2 separate regions of the Homo sapiens genome follow, and region 1 is linked to region 2. The links come from fine-mapping of genetic effects on gene expression. Tissue or cell type: whole blood. Region 2 holds a variant in brackets; the other region holds the start of a gene. All regions are shown on one strand. Distances are between the middles of the regions.

Region 1 (2,500 bases), 62 kb after region 2:
TAACAGTGCTAAACCATGACTTTCTAAACCATGACCAACGAAAAAATTTTTAAAAAGAACTTTATTACACGAAGATTCCTAGAACTAAAAGCGTCATTGCCTGACCTAAAGAATTTCAGGTAAGTGAGGTTCACCTCCTGATTTTAACCAAAGGCTTCGGTTTCCATCTGAATGCCAGCCGGCTTAAGAGGAGGCTGCTGCTTTAAAGGAGCGATATAAACGAAAAAGTTCTCAGGTCACAAACTTAGCTCAGATTCCAGCCCCGACAGATCTTGAGCCCATGTGGCATCGCTTTCAGAGCTTCCCAGTCTGTGAGTCAAGCCCCCGCCTCCTCCCCTCCCCGGGACTGCCTCGGGGATGAGGTTTACTAACAATTTCTCCGAGTGCCGGCGGAGCCCAGGAGCGCTGGAATCCAGCGTCTGGGAGAGGCTTGGGGAGCTCTTCCTCGGCTTCTGCAGCCGCAAAGTAGGGTTGCCAGCGCCAGGATCTGCACACAAGCCGCCGCCACCTCCCCTGCCCCCAAATGGCTGGGGTACGGAGGGAAAGGAGGACGCGAGGGTGTGCCACCCAACCCCGCAGAGTGAAGCCGAGGCCCCAAGGACCGTCGAGGAAATCGCGGCTGGGCCGGCCAGATCCGACGCACGGAATGCGATCTCCAGGTTCTCATCGTGTTCCCGGCTCGGTGCTCGGCGTTCAAGGGGGTGGGGAGGATCGAAAAGCTGCCCCTCGAGGCTGCTCCGCCGCCGGGGAAGCCCGTGGCTCAGGCTTCACGCGTCAGGCGCTCTCTCGGAGTCCAGCCGAGCCGGGCCCGGGCGCGCAACCCGCGGCGCTCCGCTCTCAGCCGGGGACGTGGCTCTCCGTCTCCCGCCCGCGCCGGGACAGCCCCGAAGGCTACCCGCCCGAAACTCCCGAAGAAAGTTGCGCCGCGCGCCCCAGCTCGTCCCTTGCGCGCCCCTCCACTTACCGCTCCCAGCCGAGGCTTCGTTCTCTCCGGCGTCGCCTCCGCAGCCTCCAGAGCCAGCTCCCGGTCCTCCTCACTCCAGGGCGCCCGGGCTCCCGGCCCCCTCCGAACCGAGCCCTCCGCGCCCCCGCCGCGCCATGCCCCGGGATGCGCTGCTGCAGCCTCGGGCGACGCTACTGAGAGCCGGGCCGGCGGGGGCGGGTAGGTGTGGGCGAAAGGGGCGGAGGGAGGGACGCGGCGGGCGCTGAGGCTCCGCTGGAGGGGGGAGGAAACCGCAACGTCACCAGAGCCAGAGGAGACGAGGATGAGGAGAGGGAAACGGGGACCCCCTCCCCCGGCCGAACCCCGACCGCAGGCCCGCCCCGCTTTCTCCCGCTCCTCCTCTCCCGGGACTCGCCGCTCGCAGCTGTGCTCGGCCTTCCACGCCACCCGGCCCGGACTCCACCCGCACCCCCGCCCGCCAGGCCTCTTTGGCTCTAACTTGTTCTAGTTTCTTAGGACTCAAACGCTTCGGGTTCGAGAATCACACCCAAAGGAAAGGTAACTTTTGGAGGCCCAGGGGGAGGAGCTGATGCTTCCATACTACTCTGCGAGAGGAAAGCGAGGAAGACGTTAAGACTCTTACTACCGGGACTGGTGCCCACTCCAGTCTGCCTCCTCCCGAATAGTTACTGCCTCTTTTCTCTCGAATTCGGTTTTACTCTCTTCTCAAAGAGAAGTTAGTGGGAGGGGGGACTTTGGGGCGGGGGTCACCTATAGAGAAGCAGTTCTCTTTTTTACTGTACCAACAAAATACACTAAATCCAAGCGCACCGAACCCTGCAAACGGAACAGATTTTAATCACAGAAGGTCAGGAGCAAAGCATTTAATGTAGGCAGCTCACAAACAGAAATTTATCTTACGCGGTGGGGGGGTGTGTGTGTGTGAGAGAGAGAGATCCCTCATGCACCCAAGTTCAGGTGGAGCATTTGCAACCTTGGTAGTCACAGCCTCCTGGAGAAGAGTCCTCCTGTTTTCCAAAAATCAGCCACTGCTCAAACACGCTCAGCCAGGTCCAACCAGGCCCCAAGGAGATGTGAGGTAGGATCAGGGCCATCACCTCAGGAATACTTTGCCCCTTCCACCTCCACCCAGTGTGTGCAAGTAACCTACCAGACCTAGATTGTACAGAAGTGAAAGATTTGTAGGATACTTACCCATTCATTAGAATGAGAGATATTTTACTGGGAGCAGTGCTTTTCTCCATGAGTTCTGAAGGGCACCTCCATCCAATTCCTCTATCCTCAGAGGTTCTCACTTCTATTTGGCCAAATAAGGAAAAAATGTGGATGTCTCAGTTTATGCTTCTCTTTTTCAGAAATTGCATTTAAGAGGAACTCCTTACAAACAGGTCAAGAGGAAGTGGTACTATTAAATTTTTTAAATGTTCACTCAGGTGAACCACTAATTTGCATAAACTTCTTGATGCTTTAGGGAAGGCCTGTCGAGGAGAGAAGAGGGCTCTGGAAACTGGAACTAATCTTTGGTTCAAATCCAAA
Region 2 (2,500 bases):
AAAGAAATGTTTCTAACACTACCTATTAGGTACTATGCTCACTACCTGGGTATACTGCACATGTACCCCTGTATCTAAAAGTTGAAATTTTTTTTTAAAAAAGAAAAGTTTCTAAGAGTTTCAAAAACAGTGATATGAGTTGAATTGAAACTTCATATACTCAGGTGGCATGGAGAAAAGATTTAAAAAGTGTTTTAGTTTTTCTTTTTAAATGCAAAAAAACAAGTGCATAGCATGAATAGTACCCTTGGGTACCATTTCTCTTTAAAGCTAGCCCAATGTGTCATACCAGAGAAATTCTGTGTGCAGAGTGCACCAGCGCTGCCCTTTGGATGGTGTTCCTGGACCTTCCACCACACGGTTCCTTCTGATTTGGTCAGCTAGCCAGTTACCACTGCCATTACGCATGACAAATTTATCAAGGAACACTAATTGGCTTTCTGGACCATAAAACCAGTTGTAATTTGAGTCCGCAATAGCCACAGTCCTTTGAAACCCTAGGGAAATAAGTTGGAAAGAATTAAGATACTTTGAAAACTTCACACTCCTATATAGGTCTAAACAATGACTTTTCAAATCTAGTTGCAAATTAGAATTGTGTAATGGAAGGGATAAAATAAAAGAAAAATCACAATCCTCACATTTTATTCCAGACCAGTTAGTCAGAATCCCTCAAAAGGTCTTCCACATATGTTGTGTGCAAGCTTGTATTTATTATGTGGTAACCTGTCCTTGGTAACATTAGTGCTACACCTATTCCCTGCCTTCCTCATTTTCCAATGTTCATGCTATACGTGATTATATTTGCATATATACATGGGACATCCTCTTGTGCAGTTTGGGTTTCTGAACCTGGAATGAACACTAGCTCTCCCACAACTCAACATGCATTCTAGGCCAAGATAATAAAATAACATGCTTCAGTTTGGCTTCAATAAAGTGTAAGTTATACTATATACGAAGTTCAGGGGAGAGACTGAGTTTCTACAGGAAGAAAATTTAATTCC[C/T]GGAGTAGCTCCTGCCAGTATGTACTGCTGGAAGTTAAACGACAGAAAATGCAAGGATCATAAAGCCATATATCATTTTTGGAATAGGGAAGAAAAATAAAAGCAGGTAAGACTGGATATGCTCCACGTGTTCATGAAAAAAGAAGCAGCAAGATAGAAAACTCAGCCAGACAAAAAAATTGCTACTAGAGTATCAACTGTAGAAAAAAAAAAAAAGAGAGAAATGAAGTTGAAAACAGATTGCTTTAACATAGAACCTCTTCTAAAATGTTACCACAATTATATTTATGTAATTTACAGCTAATGTTTTTGTTCCTAATAATTTAGTAAATGATCTTGTAAGTATACCTTATTTTAAAATGATATTTTCTGAATCTTCTACTAGTCTGTGAATTCCTTGAAAGCAGGAGATGTGTTTTATTCCTCTTTGAATCCTCTGCCTACTACAGTGCCTGGCACACAGATGTTCAATAAAAGTTTGTTTAATTAACACAAACATATAAATGCTGCTCTTAGACATGTTCATACTGTCTTTTCCACTTTAGGAAGTAGCCACAGACACAGCTCACAGCAAACACAATTCCTGATGTAGTTAGCCTTTAGATCTCAGCTTAAATTACAAAGCACTGAAACCTCTTAAAGGTCCCTTGCTTCAGGTAGCCTTTGTTTACTAGGATGAATTGCAAAACAGGCCTCTCCTGCATGTCTAAGAAAAAGCAACAAAGCAGTATTTTTTTGAATGTAAGTCTAAACTAAATCTTAAAATGGTTCTTATGCTCTGCAATATTTTTGAATTAGTCCAATAATGGAGATTCTATTAATCTGTATGTATACTACCAGAGCCAAAAGATTTAAATACTATATTATTTGTTGTAGGTCTAGAATCACCATCTAAAAATTGCATTTCCTTGGGGAAGGGGGGGAATCTATCCTGATAAAATTTTCCTTTATAACTTGTTCTAACATCTTAGTCCTGTTTTAGAAATAAAAAAAGGTTACAAAGTTCTCTGGAAATGAATACATTATTAAATCATGTATATATTTTTTTTAGAGCTAGTTCTCTTAGAAGGCTAAATGACACAGCAATAAAGAAATTACAAGTTTTACAGCACTTTTTTTGTTTACTTTTCTATACTATTTACTTCAATAAAATATTACAATACTAAAGCTCCAACTTAAATGTGTAGGTGTAATCTTTCATTTTGAATCATGTCTGTATAGTTTGAAAGAAAAAACTGAAAACCAAAAATTAAAATAGGATTGATCAGGGATCACATATAAAGGAAAACTGACAGGTAATCACAAATGTTTATATTTTGCTTGCAATGATGAAGATGAGTTCGTATATTACTCAAGTTTGGATATATAAAAAAAAAGTATTGAGGGGCCTAGAAATTGTATTTAATCCATAACCCTCCAAACTTTATAATACCTAAATCATAAATACTCACATTAGCCTCCAAAATGTTCTGGCTATATGCAACTCTTGAATT

What was found. PIP is the estimated chance that this variant, and not a neighbour inherited with it, causes the effect.
Region 1: it holds the start of DSE, and the variant in region 2 is fine-mapped to the expression of DSE in whole blood (INTERVAL, PIP above 0.99).

The regions. Positions count from the first base shown.
Region 1 is chr6:116,369,586-116,372,085 of GRCh38, reverse strand. DSE (dermatan sulfate epimerase) reads right to left here and starts at 1,139. Exons shown (of 6, transcript NM_013352.4): 1 at 965-1,139. It overlaps LOC100287467 (a long non-coding RNA gene), which reads left to right and starts at 367. Exons shown (of 1, transcript NR_148944.1): 1 at 367-2,500. RefSeq lists enhancers at 268-768, 2,283-2,332 and silencers at 766-1,060, 823-1,352.
Region 2 is chr6:116,431,340-116,433,839 of GRCh38, reverse strand. It overlaps DSE (dermatan sulfate epimerase), which reads right to left. Exons shown (of 6, transcript NM_013352.4): 5 at 290-497. Among named protein-coding and RNA genes, the nearest start is that of CALHM6, 29 kb to the left of the region's middle. The variant C/T (reference allele first, on the strand shown) is at 1,008.